Homo sapiens: one gene and its partner. The protein of the gene in region 2 purifies or fractionates together with the protein of the main gene of each other region. This does not show direct contact. Each region holds a gene or a part of one and is shown on either strand. Other genes may lie near its edges.

Evidence for each region.
Region 1: the proteins of PPM1G (region 2) and COPB2 purify together in Homo sapiens (affinity purification with mass spectrometry; 2 studies listed by BioGRID and IntAct, with this or other methods). This does not show direct contact.

What each region holds. Positions count from the first base shown.
Region 1 is NC_000003.12:139,357,149-139,365,683, forward strand, and holds the end of COPB2 (coatomer subunit beta'), read right to left. Parts: intron 5,370-8,535; coding exon 5,259-5,369; intron 4,148-5,258; coding exon 3,933-4,147; intron 2,215-3,932; coding exon 2,122-2,214; intron 2,031-2,121; coding exon 1,850-2,030; intron 1,665-1,849; coding exon 1,596-1,664; intron 1,124-1,595; coding exon 1,052-1,123; intron 811-1,051; coding exon 715-810; 3' UTR 258-714; downstream 1-257. UniProt on the Homo sapiens protein: The coatomer is a cytosolic protein complex that binds to dilysine motifs and reversibly associates with Golgi non-clathrin-coated vesicles, which further mediate biosynthetic protein transport from the ER, via the Golgi up to the trans Golgi network.
Region 2 is NC_000002.12:27,384,266-27,393,781, reverse strand, and holds part of PPM1G (protein phosphatase 1G), read left to right. Parts: intron 1-205; exon of another isoform or gene 206-1,159; intron 1,160-6,623; coding exon 6,624-6,693; intron 6,694-7,502; coding exon 7,503-7,588; intron 7,589-7,902; coding exon 7,903-8,035; intron 8,036-8,693; coding exon 8,694-9,109; intron 9,110-9,516.

The sequences.
Region 1 (8,535 bases), on a different chromosome or scaffold from region 2:
CTACTCACTTTTCGTAGGCTACAAGGATATTTGAGTGCCTGGTTATGAATTTCTCAAATCATGTTAGATGAGCGTACGGTTAAAAAGTCTGGTGTGTTTTTGTGTTACCAAATAGGGCAAACGTTAACTTAGACAGACCCCCAGCTTAATGAGGTCAGAGGAACAGAGGTTTCACATCCTGACTCCAGAAATGGGTAGCTGCTAGACAAAATCGGGGCAAGACCTGTGGAATGATGCAATGAGGTCAAGAAAAAGGGTTTAGAGAATTACAGCCTGGATATTCAGCTCTAAGAAAAATGTGATTGACAACATTTGAAAATGCAGATTTAGTTATACAAAGAAAAGACAGTGGGGCTGATCCCTAGGCAAGGTGTAGTTTCGGCTCAGCCTTCTAAAACTAGAAGCCTATTTTCATTATTGAGAAAGGAAACAAGTACCTTCATTAATTCAAAAGGTTTTATGAGATATGGTCTAATAGTATGAAAAAAATCAAAGCCCATGTCTGTTTTAGTTAACAAGGAAAACACAGTGATTTAAATGCTGCACATAAACTCTTCTTAAGATGATGTGGGCATTGTGCTCCCAGTGGTCCACAGCATTTACATATAAAAATCTAAGAAGTTTCTCATAGTCCAAAGCACTGTGGTCAGGGTAGCAATCAATACCTATATATAATAATGATCTGTTTAGTCAGGTAAATGGAAAGCATTACAGTCAATCATCCAAAATATCTTCATCCAGATTGATATCTGTTGTGTCAATATCTTCTAATTCCAAATTATCCAAATCTACTTCTAGTTCGAGTAAACTCTGCAGACAAAAGGAAGAGGGTAATTAAGTTTTACAGTACTGTTAAAGGAAAGTTATCCGTGGGTTCATGATTCAAAGTGAGAACTAAGATTTTCTTAATAGTCAAAAAGAGCATCTTCCCATTTCAAAGCCCCTGCTCTGAAACTGATGTCACTTAAACCACAGAGGCCTACGTATCCTCCAGATATTGATGGGGAGGAAGATGGGGTAGAGGGAGGTTTGAGTATGATGTCTGACCTACCTTTTCTTCTTTGTTGGCTGTGTGGGAGGCCACAATAACCGGAGTAGGAGAAGCAGGTTTCCCATCAAGTTCCTGAAACCACAAGTGAAGATATATATGAAGACAAGGGAATTTACTCGGGAATTTAAAGTTTTCCCCCAAGAAAAGGATGATCAGAATTAGGAAGTGGGAGATGATGTTTAAAAGTGAACCATCTCAGCCAGGCACAGTGGCTCACGCCTGTAATCCCAGCACTTTGGGAGGCCGAAGCAGGTGGATCATGAGGTCAGGAGATCGAGACCATCCTGGCTAATGCAGTGAAACCCTGTCTCTAATAAAAATACAAAAAAATTAGCCGGACCGGTGATGGGCGCCTGTAATTACCCCAGCTACTCGGGAGGCTGAGGCAGGAGAATGGCGTGAACCCGGGAGACAGAGCTTGCAGTGAGCCTAGATCGCGCCACTGCACTCCAGCCAGGGCAATGGAGCGAAACTCTGTCTCAAAAGAAAAAAAAAAAAAGTGAACCATCTCAGCCAAATTTATCACATGAAGTGCTCTACTGACCTGTTGAGCTGTAGATCTTGAGGGCTGAAAGTCTTTTCCCTCTTCCATGACATTTCTCTCTTCATTTGGCTATCAGAGAATAAAGCAATGATGAAATGAGATATTCTGAAATCATAATTTACCTATGAACTTGGCCTAAATCCCAGATATCAGCTCTTAATTTTAAAAGAAGACAGCAGTTCAAAATCTGAAGTCCTGAATGTACTTCCACCCTGTAGTTACAATAAATGAAGCTTGACATCCTGGCCACTCACCGTGACAAGTGGGTATTGTTTGGCTGGCCACAGATCAGCATGTGTTTCCTTCACCCATTCTTCAACAACAAAGGCTTCTTTTAATCCAGGGAACAGGTTTTCATACTCTGTTGGGTCAGCAAGGGATTCTGCTGCTTTCTGATTGACTTTTGAGAGATTCTCTCTCCAGAGTTTCACTACCCTATTATAGACATCATGGAACCAAAGAGAGACTAAGTAAATGTGCTCTCTTTTTATTGGAAACATTTCTTCCTAAAATTAAAAGTCTGTACCTTGAAACCTGACTGGGTAAGTAAGTTCGGGCCAAGAAGGCAGCTTCTGGCAGCCGTCCAGTTCTAATTAAGAGCTCTAGGCAGGCATCAACCCTAAACATTAAAAAGGAGAGGTACTGTTACCAAGAATAAACACTATAATAATGGGTACTTAACACAAAGTAAATTTAGTGTTACAAAGCCAAAAATCTCCCCAATCTTCACACATATATCTCATTTCTGTCACTTGTCTTTTAATGGTTGTTAATCAACACACTGCAAGGGTATGAGGGATAAGACAGCTTTCCTGACTACTTTGAATCTACTTAACTTAATTATTATAATTCCTAAGAACCTAAAGGGGCTTTTCAAGAGGAGTTAAGGCAGGTTAGATTAGCAAATTTTAAAGGCATAAGGATATATGCCAGCAGAAATTCAGTTCCACAAGACAAATATCTAGGGCAGTGTCTCCAACATGGGAAGGGCCAGACAAGCCAGTGGTGCCCAGCAGAATACCATGGTGTCTTATTTTTTCTTCTATTTTAATTTCATTTTTTTTCTGTGCAAGTTTTATGATGTGGACAATATGTTTCAGAATTCAGGATTTTTTGGATTTTCGAAAGGTGATACAGTATGTATACTATGTATTACCTTACATCCTCAGCATGAAAAAGCCACAAACATTAATACTGCAATAACTTACATAGGAATGTTAAATGCAATAAAAATGTACCAAGTTGGTATAAAAGCAACTAAAAATACTAAAGCAGTTCAGCTCAGGTCTTGCCATCAAAACAGTTATAACTGTTTTCAGAATATTTTTGGATTTTTGAATTATGGATAAGGAATAGGGTCTATTCTTACAGGTATATAAATTCATAAATACATTCACATACATACAATGGGGTGCACGTTCAAAGTTATATGGCGAAGTATGGGATTGTAAAAAAAAAAAAAAATCAGTATGTAGGAGAAGGTTAAAGAATACTTTCGGGCTGGGCGTGGTGGCTCACACCTATAATCCCAGCACTTTGGGAGGACGAGGCAGGCGGATCATTTGAGGTCAGGAGTTTGAGACCAGCCTGGCCAACATGGTGAGACCCCATCTCTATTAAAAACACAAGCCGGGTGTGGTGGCGCATGCCTGTAATCCCAGCTACTTGGGAGGCTAAGGCAGGAGAAGGGCTTGAACGAGGGAGACAGAGGCTGCAATTAGCCGAGATCATGCCACTGCACTCCAGCCTGGGCAACAGAGTGAGATTCCATCTCAAAAAAAAAAAAAAAAAAAGGAAAGAATACTTTTGTGTTTTATTTCATAATACTGCCAACTAATGTCCAAATGATTTGGTTTATGCTAACTCGGTTAGACTTAAAAATATGAGACATCTTTATGCTTTATAGTGGGCTCAAATCTACAAGTAAGTGGCATACTTATCCCCTTTTGTTCTTGCCATAAATGGATCAAAGTTATCCAATTTGGGTAAAATCACCTGCCCTTCAGGTACCTACTAGAGCAGCTCAATAGCCTCCTGCAATCATAAAATAAAATGCTTCCACCATTAACTGGCAGGGCTGTTGAAGAAGGTGTTTAACATTTCTCCCACTTGAGCCTCCCTGAACAGCTCATTTAGCTCAAACATTTAGATAGATGTGCTAAGGGCATCCCTTGCTGAAGGTGAGTGCCACCAAGGCAGCACTGTCCTGTTCTGACTGCCCCGTCTATTCAACACCATTTGGCCATTCATCAGTTCTCTCCAGGGTTCATTCTTCACTTCCCTCTCCAAAAACCATCCTCAGTGTAGAATTAATTAATCTTTTAAATTAATACTCACTTGCCCTGTAAAAAGTAGCTCATGAATGCCACATTATTTTTGCCATCTCTCTCCGCACCCTCTGCTAGCTTGTTCACCATATTAGCATTTCCAGAGGCAGTGGCCAAAAGCAGCAGGCCCCCATAATCCTGTGCATGATGCAGGCACTCCTGGGCTAGGCCAAACTGACATTTACTAATGGCAAGTTCAGCAAGTTGTTTCCACTTCTGTTCTGACTGTAAGAAAAGAGTTTCCAAGTTAAAATATCTTTAGAAATAAGCATTTACATTTCCAACATTATTCTGTTAACTGTGCAGACAATGTTTATAAAAAGAGCTGTGTTTGTTAAGTTGGCTCTATCAAAATAAGAATGGCATTGCAAAATGTACAGTGAGGAAATGGAAATTATTAATGTATACAAAATGAATTTAAACACAAATCAATTTTAATGATGTGCAAATAATTATCGTCAACCCATTATACTTTTATCTTATAATTACACAGGGAAAGTAAAACCATCTCACTGGAGTTTTAAGGCAATTAGACTGCAATTATTTTAACAAGTGATTTAATATCACTTTTTTGAAAGCATACAAAACTACGTCTTTAAATATTTCACAATAATATTATGTCTCACTTGTAGCTTTTCAGAACTCAAAATGCTGCATGTTTAGATGATCTTAACGTAGCTAAAATTTATTTTGCACATCTGAAATTAATTTACCAGTAAATGCCAGTCTGAAACAATTGGGAGCCTCAATATACAAAGATCTATAAAAATATCATTACAAAAATGGTATTAACATTTCTCCCACTTGAGCCTCCCTGAACAGCTCATTTAGCTCAAACATTTAGACCAGATGTGCTAAGAGCATCTGCTGCTGAAGGTGAGTGCCACCAAGGCAGCACTGTCCTTCTCTGACTGCCTGCTCTATTCAACACCAAAAGATGAGGGGGTTGGGCTGTCTTTCAAAACCAACATATTTTTAGTTAGTTTCAGACATTGGCAAATAACTGCTATGTCTGTACTCTTAGGCTTTCCAGACTAGTTTACATACTATTTTACATCTTTTCTTATCTTGCAAAATAGAGCTCACATAAGATATGAAAACAATTTTTCTTAAAACAAATTAGAGTGCTAAGAATATCTCCAATGTAATCAATTTAACTTATGCAAAGTTTAACATAATACATCTTTTAAAAAGATAAGAGAGAGACAATAACTTCAACAAAATGAGCCACTAATTTGCATTTGGGAAAACTTTAATAACAAAACATTACACCAAACACATAGAAGTACCTACTGACTTTTCCATCAGTTATGAAAAATCATGAATTAGTACATACCTCTGCTTCCACTGCTAACTGGTATGCAATTTTTAACTCTCCAAGCTGAAGAGCAAGCTCAAAACGATGCTCAGGATCTGTGGATACTGTAAGAGCTTGCTGCTTGAAGCCCTAAACAGATTTTTAAAAATTATATATATTTATGCATACAAAAATGTATGTATGTTTTATATATATATATATACACACACATATACAGTGTACACACATTCACAGAGCAAATCATTTCCCTCTCAAACTAGAAACCCCACTATTTAATAAGAAGATGGAATAATTAAGGAGTCATTAAAGGAAGTGGTAAGAACAAACCTGGCAGATAAAATATTCAGTGACAGAATTCTTACTGTTTATTAGGATAATGGAAGCTGGCTAATGTTAAACTCAAGTAACCAGTAAAACTGGAAATGTAAATATAAACAGATATGTCAAAAAGAAAGGAATTTTGCAAAGTTGACTAAACAAGAATCATTTCAAAAGAAGAAAACTAGGCACAGCAGTGTAAACTTAGCTGTTGGTAATCTACTCAACTAGGCTGGGAAGTAGAGATCATCTAGTCCAACCCCTCATTTTGCAGATGAGACTATTAGCAGTAAATGGCCAAAGAAACGGGAGTCAAATATAAAACCTTCCAACTTTCTGTCATCTGTAGGTCATAGCAAACATTGTGTATTCAGGTCCAGTCACCAATTAGGTGTCATTACCTATTCCTTTATTGTTGGTCTCAAGTCCAGTTCCTCAGCAAGTATCCAAAAGACAGGAAGTCTAAAATTTCCTTCCCATGCTCCATTAAGGCATTAAGAACAAGCTTTTAAACCAGGGGTCTCCCAAACAACCAGTCTGTGGCCTGTTAGGAATCAGGCCGCACAGCAGAGGGTGAGCAGTGGGTGGGTGGGTGAGTGAGCATTACCGCCTAAACTCCGCCTGTAACGGCATTAGATTCTCATAGGAGCATGAACCCTATTGTGAACTGTACATGTGATGGATCTAGGTTCTGTGCTCTTTATGAGACTCTTAATGCCTGACGATCTGAGGTGGAACAGTTTCATCCTGAAATGTACCCCCTTCCCATCTGTGGAAAAATTGTCTATCTGCCACGAAACTGGTCCCTGGTGCCAAAAAGGTTGGGGACCACTGTTTTAAATCAACTATTGTAATTATTAAATTAGCTTCTCCTTCAAGACAAACACTACTGATGGGGTCATTTTTAGCTCTAGGGATGTAATGTGTTACACAAAAAGCTCAGGGATAGTTTACCTCTTCACCAGACTGAGGGAGAATGCTCATTTATGGGATAGTCAAGATTGAGAAGCTGGACAGCTTTAGGGTTCTGTCTGGCTATATCTTCAGGATGGCTTTATCATCAAGTTTGAAATGTTTTAACTTCTCAGCTTATACAGGCTGCCAACCCGCCCCGATCCATCCATGAATACGATGTAAATAAGGCATTCTAAATAACCGGAGTTACTTTTTTTCCACTAGCATTGATATAGATAACATAAAACCCAAGAGTGGAGGATGGAAGATCTCTGGAACTAGTCAGATACAGCCAAGGGCAAAACACATGAAATGAGGCGGACTAAAATATATACTTTTGTTTTCTGCTAATTCCCTACTACTAATAAAATCACACTAAAAGGATTTTTTTTTAAAGGCATAAGCTCCCAACGACACACAGAAAGGGAGAGGAAACAGTAACAAAAGTTTGGAAGCTGGAAAGCTGGTGGAGGAATATAAACATTTTGTTAAAACAGTAGAGAAAACAGATCCTAAATCAGGAGTGAGAACAGCATAGAAACAATGTGATTTACACCCAGTGTGTCTCATGAATGGTAGGGCTAAAAACAAACAAACTGCCCTAAAAGCATTCAGAAACTCTAGATCCGCTCCCCTCTCCCACCTCCCCTCTCTCACCTCCCCTCTCCCACCTCATGACAAAGAAGACAGGTTTATTCTTTGGAGAGGACAAACTAAAGAGTCTCCAGACCAGGAGATTCCAAGCACACTTGGAGGAAAAAGTACAGAGTATCAAAGGAAGACAGGAGATTATGAAAATGGATACACAGACTCAATGAAATATTAAATACTGAGACTCCAAGGTATCTTCTACTGAGACCCCAAAATGATGGTGACTGGGGAGCTTTTCAGTAAAATCTACTGAGCCCAAGGGAAAAGACTTAAAAATACTAAAATGTCAACTCCATGAAGGCTACATGTCAGCAGGAACAGTGCCTAGCACATTGTTAAGTGCTTGTTAAATTCATTACATAAATGGAAAGTCATCAAAAATTCATTGGCTAAAGATACTGACATTGAGACTCCCTAATCAAATGGGCCAACCACACCAGATATTGTGAAATCCAAACCCAATATGCCCCACCCACAAATTCAGACCTTCTGATCTGTTTCTTGTACCTTCACTCTTAAATGAGGGCCCAAGGACATCAGATACTTGAGGAAAATCACTAACAGCAAAGATGCAGATCAAAATGAAGCAATAAAAGGAACGTGAAGGAAGCATACCATATAGGGGGAAGAGAAAACTTCAAAATCTAAAAACAGAAATATATCATTCATATCTGTAGAAAGATACGAGAAACTTTTATCTATAAACAATAAGATTTTAAAAGAGAATAGGAAAATCAGTGCAGGACATACAACATGAACAATTCCAGAAAGACAGAATACAGAAAACGAAGGATATCACCATAGAACGATTCATGAAAATCCTTCAGAAATGTAGGACATAAGTTTCCCATTAAAAAAGCTCATCTAATAACTGGCAGAATTAATGAAAACTGATTCCTACCAAGGCCTACCATGATTATAACATTTCAGTACAACAGAGATGACATTCAGAAAGTTTCCACAGAGAAAAACCAGGTCATGTACTAAGAATGAGGAATAAAAATGGCTTTAGACTTCAACAATAACTACAAGGCAATGGAACAATGCCTTCAAAATTCTGAGAGAAAATTACCTCCAACAATTATATACCAGTTAAATGGTTGAATATGTTTTAGGGTAGAACAATGGCACTTTCAGATATTCAAAGTCACAAAACAATTTATCTCTCATTAACAATCCTTTTCTCAGGAAATTGCTGAAGGGCATGTTCCCCTAAAATGAGGGAGCAAAGCAGGAAAGGAGATAGGGGTATAAGAAACAATGGATCCAACAGGACAGAAGCAAAGGAAGCCCCAACATGATGGTGAGGGGAAATCCATGATGAGAGCAGGAAAACCAGTGCAGTCTGAAGGAGACTAAGCAAACTGAAAGG
Region 2 (9,516 bases):
CTAAAAAAATAAATAAATAAAAATAAAAAATTAGCTGGGTGTGGTGGCACGCACCTGTACTCCCAGCTACTCGGGAGGCTGAGGCAGGAGAATTGCTTGAACCCGGGAGATGGAGGTTGCGGGGAGCCAAGATTGCGCCACTGCACTCCAGCCTGGCGACAGAGTGAGACTCTTTCTCAGAAAAAAATATGATAATTAAAAGTTGAGACGTTCTTCGCCGAGAGTGGTCGGGGTTTCCTGCTTCAACAGTGCTTGGACGGAACCCGGCGCTCGTCCTGCACCCCGGCCGGCCGCCCATAGCCAGCCCTCCGTCACCTCTTCACCATGCCCTCGGACTGCCCCAAGGCCCCCGCCGCAGCTCCAGCGCCGCGTAGCCACCACTGCCGCTGCCGCCGCCTCTCCTTAGTCGCCGGCATGACGACCGCGTCTACCTCGCAGGTGCGCCAGAACTACCACCAAGACTCAGAGGCCGCCATCAACCGCCAGATCAACCTGGAGCTCTACGCCTCCTCCATTTACCTGTGCGTGGCTTACTACTTTGACAGCGATGATGTGGCTTTGAAGAACTTTGCCAAATACTTTCTTCACCAATCTCATGAGGAGAGGGAACATGCTGAGAAATTGATGAAGCTGTAGAACCAACGAGGTGGCCGAATCTTCCTTCAGGATATCAAGAAACCAGACTGTGCGGGGAGAATGCGATGGGAGAGCGGGCTGAATGCGATGGATTACATTTGGAAAAAATTGTGCATTTTGCATTACATTTGGAAAAAAATGTGAATCAGTCACTACTGGAACTGCACAAACTGGCCACTGACAAAAATGACCCCCATTTGTGTGACTTCATTGAGACACATTACCTGAATGAACAAGTGAAGGCCATCAAAGAATTGGGTGACCACGTGACCAACATGCACGAGATGGGAGCGCCCGAATCTGGCGTGGCAGAATACCTCTTTGACAAGCACACCCTGGGAGACAGTGATAATGAAAGCTAAGCCTCAGGCTAATTTCCCCATAGCCATAGGGTGACTTACCTTGTCACCAAGGCAGCGCATGTATGTTGGGGTTTCCTTTACCTTTTCTATAAGTTGTTCCAAGACACCCACTTAAGTTCTTTGATTTGTACCATTCCTTCAAATAAATAAATTTGGTACCCTCCCCCCCCCCAAAAAAAAAATGTACTGTGGGCTGGCGTAGTGGCTCATGCCTAAATCTCAGCACTTTGGGAGGCTGAGGCGGGAGGATCACCTGAGGTCGGGAGTTTGAGACCAGCCTGGGCAACATGGTGAAACCCCGTGTCTACTAAAAATATAAAAACTAGCCAGTCATGGTGGCACACACCTGTAATCCCGGCTACTTGGGAGGCTGAGGCATGAGAATCACTTGAACCTGGGCTGCGGAGGTTGTAGTAAGCTGAGATCATGCCACTGTACTCCAGCCTGGGTGACAGGGAGACATTCTCTCTCTCAAAAAAAAAAAAAAAAAAAAAAAACAAAACAAACCAACAAAACAAAGTAATCCAGGAACAACAACATGATGAAGGACTGCATGCAGGACTCAGTGATGGATGGTGGAAGACAGCCAGGAAGTTAAGCATGACTCTGGTATTAAGTGTTGTCTGGGAGAGTTAAGATTCCATTTACAGAAATAAGACCTGTAGGGGAAGCTCTTGATTTTTTTTTTTTTGCAGACTGCTGATTTCCTGATTACATGTGTTAAGTTTGAGGTATAGAGAGAAAGAACATCCTGGCCGGGTGCAGTGGCTCACACCCGTAATCCCAGCACTTTGGGAGGCCAAGGTGGGCAGATCACGAGGTCCAGGAGATCGAGACCATCCTGGCCAACATGGTGAAACCCCGTCTCTACTAAAAATACAAAAATTAGCTGGGCGTGGCGGCGCGTGCCTGTTATCCCAGCTACTCAGGAGGCTGAGGCAGGAGAATTGCTTGAACCCGAGAGGCAGAGGTTGTGATGAGCCGAGATCGCGCCACTGCACTCCACCCTGGCAACAGAGCTAGACTCTGTCTCAAAAAAAAAAAAAAGAAAGAAAAAAAGAACATCCTGTAGAAACAGGCAGTCAGAGGTATAGAACTACACAGAATCCAAGAGATCTTTCAAGAAAAGTGACATGCAGCAAGAGAAACTATCAAGGGGGTAAACAACCTATAGAATGGGAGAAAATATTCACAAAGTATACATCCAACAAAAGTCTAATATCCAAAATCTATAAGGAACCTAACAAGCAAAAAGCAAATAACCCCCTTAAAAAGTGGGCAAAGGACATGAACAGATACTTCTCAAAAGACGTACATGTGGCCCACAAACATGAAAAAACGCCCATTTCTAATCATCAGACAAATGCAAATTAGAACCACAAAGAGATACCATCTCACACCAGTCAGAACAGCTTTTGTTAAAATGTCAAAAAATGAGAAACGTTGGTGAGGCTGCAGAGGAAAGCAGACACTTGTACACTGTTGGTGAAGGTGTAAATTAATTTAGCGTAGGCACAGTCAGTTTGGAGATTTCTCAGAGAACTAAGAGTGGAACTACCATTAGACCCAGCAATCTGATGGCTGGATATACGGCCAAAGGAAAATAAATCATTCTGCCAAAAGAACATATGTACCTGTATGTTCATTGTGGCACCATTCACAATAGCAAAAACATTGAATCAACTCATGTGCCCATCAGTGGCGGACTAGAAAAGAAAAGAAAATATGGTACATAGCCATCATGGAATACTATGCACCCATTAAAAATAATGAAATAATGTCTTTGCAACAACATGAATGTAGCTGGAGGGCATTATCCTAAGCAAACTAACACAGAAACAGAAAACCAAATACTGCGTGTTCTCACGCAGTGAGAGTGGGAGCTGAACATCAAGTACACATGGATGTAAAGATGGCAACAATAGACATGGGTCTACTAGAGGTGGTGGTGCGGCAGGGTGGGGGTGGGGGTTGTGTGGCAGAGGAACAGCTGAAAAACTACCTATTTGATACTATACCCAGCACCTGGGAAACGGGTTCAGTCATACCCCAAACCTCAGCATCACACAGTATACCTTTCTAACAAACTTACACATGTATTCTGTGATTCTAAAATAAACATTGAAAAATAAAAAAAAAACTGACATGGTTTGTACTGTTTAATCTGACATAATGGCTAGGGGAAATGAAGTCTGCAGAATGGCTGTTTACGGATGTTGTTGTTGTTGTTGAGATGAGGTCTCACTATGTTGCCCAGGCTTGAACTCCTGGCCTCAAGCAGTCCTCCTGCCTTGACCTCCCAAAATGTTGAGATTACATGCATGAGCCATTGCCAAAACGGCTATTTGGATTGCTGTTAAGGTTATTACATTCTCTGTGTAGTAAGACCTTGAAGGAGAAGGATTTGAGATCAGGAGTTTAAGAAAAAATGTTAATCTAGGAAGAGAGGATAATTTCTGTGTTTGGCCAGTTGCAATGGCTCACGCCTGTAATCCCAGCGTTTTGGGAGGCCGAGCTGGGCAGATCACTTGAGCTCAGGAGTTTGAGAAGAGCCTGGGCAACATGGTGAAGCCCCGTCTCTACTGAAAATACAAAAATTGGCTGGGCGTGGTGGCAGGTGCCCACTGTAATTTCAGCCACTCAGGAGACTGAGGCAGGAGAATTGCTTGAACCTGGAAAGTGGAGGATATGGTGAGCCTAGATCGCGCCACTCTACTCCAGCCTGGGAGACTCCATCTCAAAAAAAAAAGAAAACAAGATGCTGAAATGAAGTAATTACCACAGTCAATGTGATCCTATAACTTTGTTTTGTTTTAGAGATGGGGTCTCCCTCTGTCACCCAGGCTGGAGTGCAGTGGTGCATCATAGCTTTCTGCAGCCTCCACCTCCTGGGCTCAGGTGGTCCTCTTGCCTCAGTGTTCCGAGTAGTTAGGACTGACTGCAGGTGCATGCTGCTATGCCTGGCTAACTTTAAAATTTTTTTGTAGAGGCGGGGTCTTGCTATGTTGCCTAGGCTGGTCTCCAACTCCTGATCTCAATCAGTCCTCCTGCCTACCTTCCCAGAGCGCTGGGATTACAGGTGTGAGCCATCGCACCTAGCCAATCTCATAACATTTTATGACTAGCAAACTTAGTAGTTCTGATTCAGGCATAAATCAGTTGGTGGGGTTATACAAGGTTGGGTGAGTTTTTCTAGATTTCTAAGAGACCATGTTGAAATACTTGGCTCTGTCTCAGTAAGGGATAGAGAGAAGCAAAGGTGTGGGTAAAGGTTATGAGCAGACATGTAAAGGGGGCAAATTAAAGTGTTTAGGGAAGGTGAAACAGTTCCAAATCATAATATAGATCCCAAGCCTCACCAAGAAGTGAAGGAGAGGGTAATTGTGCGATAGTTCTCAGGACTGAGACCTCAAGGTGTAAGACGAATCTTTATTGTGGGTGGTCCTCTTTGAGAAAAAGAACAAAAAAGAAAAATGTGAAATGGGTGCTAAATTTCAGAGCAGAATATACATATATGTGTATGTGTGTGTGTATATATATATATATTTTTATGTAGCAAATTCCAGTTTACAAAGGGCTTTTATGTGTTTTGCATCATTACAACAGTTCTGTGATGATGTGGATGTGGTGGATATTGTAATTCCACATCACAGAGGATAAAATTGAGGCACACCATAAGGTAGCTGACCAGAGATCATGCAGTATATGGTAGAATGGCAACTTGAGGCCAGTTCTTAGGTGTGTTTGTTGTCCTTATTCAGAATGGAACAATGTGGTTTATTGTACAAAAATTTAAAAATGAATGTCGAAAAGTAGAAATTATTACCCAAATCTCACCCTCTGTGGTTGTTTGCTATGTGATCTTCCAGACTCACATATACATGTAGATAATTTTTTTTTTTTTTTTTTGAGACGGAGTCTTGCTCTGTCGCCCTGGCTGGAGTGCAGTGGCGCAATCTCGGCTCACTGCAGGCTCTGCCTCCTGGGTTCACGCCATTCTCCTGCCTCAGCCTCCCAAGTAGCTGGGACTACAGGCGCCCACCATCACCTCCAGCTAATTTTTTGTATTTTTAGTAGAGACGGGGTTTCACCATGTTAGCCAGGATGGTCTCGATCTCCTGACCTCATGATCCGCCTGCCTGGGCCTCCCAAAGTGCTGGGATTACAGGAGTGAGCCACTGTGGCCGTCCTCACATGTAGATACTTTTTTAACTTTTTGCTTTTAACCACTTAAGATATTGTGAACTCATTTCCAAATTAACATATATTTGCTTTTAACAGCTACATTTCCACTGGAGTTACGTACCATTTGTAATCTATTCCTGGAAATTTAGATGGTTACAACTGTTTTTTATTTTATTTATTTATTTATTTAGAGACGGAGTCTGACTCTGTCACCCAGGCTGGAGCGCAGTGGTGTGATCTTGGCTCACTGCAACTTCCACCTCCGGGGTTCAAGTGATTCTCCTGCCTCACCCTTCCGAGTAGCTGGGACTACGGGCGCACACCACCACGCCTGGCTAATTTTTGTATTTTTAGTAGAGACGGGGTTTCACCATGTTGGCCAGGATGGTATTGATCTCTTGACTTCATGATCTGCCGGCCTTAGCCTCCCAAAGTGCTGGGATTACAGGTGTGAGCCACCACGCCTGGCCTCAACTGTTTTTTATTATAAATAATGCTGTAGGCCGGGCGCGGTGGCTCACTTATGTAATCCCAGCACTTTGGGAGACTGAGGCGGGTGGATCCCGAGATCAGGAGATCGAGACCATTCTGGCTAACAAGGTGAAACCCCGTCTCTACTAAAAATACAAAAAATTAGCCGGGTGTGGTGGTGGGTGCCTGTAGTCCCAGCTACTTGGGAGGCTGAGGCAGGAGAATGGCGTGAACCTGGGAGGCGAAGCTTGCAGTGAGCAGAGATCGCACCACTGCCCTCCAGGCTGGGCGACAGAGCGAGACTCCGTCTCAAAAAATAATAATAAATAAATAAATAAATAAAGCTGTGTACAGCCTGGCCAACACTTTGGGAGGCCGAGGCAGGCAGATCACAAGGTCAGGAGTTCGAGACCAGCCTGACCAACATGGTGAAACCCCATCTCTACTAAAAATACAAAAGTTAGCCGGGCATGGTGGCACATGCCTGTAATCTCAGCTATTCAGCAGGCGGAGGCAGGAGAATCGCTTGAACCCACGAGGCGGAGGTTGCAGTGAGCCAAGATCGCGCCACTGCACTCCAGCTTGGGTGACAGGGCGAGACTCTGTCTCAAAAAAAAAAAGAAGAAAAAATCCTTTATTCTGGTTTTCCCGTAGCTTCCACAGATCCAAAAGGGTCAGGTTTATTTCCAGTAGCCAAATATTCTGCCATCTGGACTGAGATATCTCCTAGGTTGAGGTTATTATAGAGGTAGTAACCTGATTCTTTCTTCCTTTTCTCCTTCCCCTTTCCTCCTTTGCCTCCCTCCTCTTTTCTTCCTCTGTATTTATTTTATCATTCCTTCTTCCTTTCTTATTTCTAGGCCATATAGGCCAGCCAGGGAAAGGTTAGTAAGGGGTGACATTGATCCCTATGACCTGAGGAATATTCTTCGACCTTGAGACATGCCGATTATGCTCTTCTTTTCCTAGGATGCTCACAACTGTATTCCTGAGCTGGACAGTGAGACAGCCATGTTTTCTGTCTACGATGGACATGGAGGTAACTTTAACAGATCATATTGGTAACATTCTAGGACCCCAATTCCAGACGTTCCAGGGCAAGAACAGGTCCCTTTGTTCATTTACTTTCCAGGGTCTGGCCCTCATTATCATTTCCTGCGTGGTGCTGTTTTTCTGTATTCTGTCATTCTTTTTTCCCAGTAGGTACTGTATTGGTTTATAATCTCACCAGGACTTGTTTTAATCCAAAGAGCCTCTATCTTTTTTTATTTTTATTTTTTAAAATTTTTAGGCTGGGCACGCGGTAGGTCACACCTGTAATCCCGGCACAGTGGATCACGAGGTCAGGAGTTCGAGACCAGCCTGACCAATATGGTGAAACCCCATCTCTACTAAAAATACAAAAATTAGCTGGGCGTAGTGGTGGGCGCCTGTGGTCCCAGCTGCTCGGAAGGCTGAGGCAGGAGAATCGCTTGAACCTGGGAGGTGGAGGTTGCAGTGAGCCAAGACCATGCCACTGCACTCCAGCCTGGGCAACAGAGCAAGACTCTTGTCTTAAAAAACAAAAAAGTGTACCCAGTTGAGCTGATTCTTTATCTTTTTTTCACTGGAGAACTAAGTATACAGGTGAGAAAAGACGAGATATTTATACCCGAGAGAATTGATGGTGAAATCCATTTTTTTGGATCAGAACTTCCCCAAACAGTGTCCTTCAAATAGGGTTCAGGGGTGCTAAGATATTTATCCCCTCAACCCTTGGGGTTCACTCCAGTATGGCATATAAATATTGTATCACTTTCTATGTGTGGGGAGCAGTGCTCCAGGTGACCTTCCTTCCTTTCCTTCTAGGGGAGGAAGTTGCCTTGTACTGTGCCAAATATCTTCCTGATATCATCAAAGATCAGAAGGCCTACAAGGAAGGCAAGCTACAGAAGGTCTGTCTGCTTACACCGCCCATTCCTCACTTGTGTAGGCTTTTCCCTTGTTCTCTAGCCCTTGGGCTTTTCCTTTCTTTTTGTCCTCTAGCTGCTGCTGCTTATTTACTCTTGAAGAATTCTGTTCCTAAAACGAGCTTATTGGCCGCCTTTTAGACTTGCCTTATTATTCCTAGGCCTCTGAGCTGTTTTTATCTGTGAGTGTCTCTTAGTGTGGTGGCTCACACTCTTAATTTGTATTCCATCCTTGTGCTCAGGATTGTATATAGGGAGTTCATTTTGTACTAGTCTTAGACTATTTTGCTTATATTCAGGCTTTAGAAGATGCCTTCTTGGCTATTGACGCCAAATTGACCACTGAAGAAGTCATTAAAGAGCTGGCACAGATTGCAGGGCGACCCACTGAGGATGAAGATGAAAAAGAAAAAGTAGCTGATGAAGATGATGGTGAGTGTGGCATCCCTTGTTTGAGGGGAAATCAGCATTTTAAGAAATATTCTTTAATATTACTTATCAATTCTAAGATAGGATGGCTTTCTAGGGACCTGGGGAGTCCTTATGTTAAAGAAACCTATGATGTTCTCCTGCATTGTATGTGGTTATGAAAAGGAGGGAGAGAATTATCTTCGTTGAGTGGCATCTGAGCTGTAAGCATTGTATATACATTATCTTTTGTCATTGTGATGGGGTCTTCCTGGTTCCTGCTAGTATTTATGTGCTTTTTTTTCCCCTCAAGACTGGAGCAGTTATTAGCCCCAATAGCCAATCATTAAGCCTAAATCCTAATTCACAGTAGCATTGTGGGCTTCCTGGATCCTCAGCCAGAATAGGGTTTTTACAACTTAACAATAAAAAATGAGACGTCAGAGGGGAAGTATAGTAACTAGTGTTGTTTTGATTAAGAAGGGGATGAAACACAAAAACCAAAAGAAGTCTGTGGAGGAGGAGGAGCTAGGGCATGTTCTTCTGAGACTTGAGCGAGAGGAACCTTGGGAGTGGGAGGTTGTGGGGAAGTTAGAGGCTGCAAGGGCTGTTGAGGTAGTGAGAGGGACGGATCCCATGAGGAGTCTGGCATGGGGGCTCTGATTTAGCCTCTTCCCTGCAGTGGACAATGAGGAGGCTGCACTGCTGCATGAAGAGGCTACCATGACTATTGAAGAGCTGCTGACACGCTACGGGCAGAACTGTCACAAGGGCCCTCCCCACAGCAAATCTGGAGGTGGGACAGGCGAGGAACCAGGGTCCCAGGGCCTCAATGGGGAGGCAGGACCTGAGGACTCAACTAGGGAAACTCCTTCACAAGAAAATGGCCCCACAGCCAAGGCCTACACAGGCTTTTCCTCCAACTCGGAACGTGGGACTGAGGCAGGCCAAGTTGGTGAGCCTGGCATTCCCACTGGTGAGGCTGGGCCTTCCTGCTCTTCAGCCTCTGACAAGCTGCCTCGAGTTGCTAAGTCCAAGTTCTTTGAGGACAGTGAGGATGAGTCAGATGAGGCGGAGGAAGAAGAGGAAGACAGTGAGGTAAGGGCCTGTGAGGGCAGGCAGATGCTGAAGTTGCAGAGAGGTCCTGTTTGGTTGCCGTCTGTAGTTTTCAACTCTCTTTCCTTCTCCTATTTTGACATCATCCCCCAAGACCCACTGTATTCTAAGCTTTAGTCTTGAATTCATTGAGCTCCATCATCACAGGTACCATTTGCCTTTTTACCTCTTCCTTTGTTGGTACTATAACAAGCAGATCTAGTTCTGGCTTTTCAGAGTCTGTCTCCTAGAGAGAGAACAAGGAGATAGTTGTTACCTTGGCTAGTTGACTGTTTTCTTCTCTGGAAAATTTATTTTCTGGCCACAGTGCCTGAAAGATATTTTTGGCTGGCAGCCCTTGCCTTGTCCTGGGCTTTTTGCTAGTGACTGCTAAGCCCAGTTCAGGATGT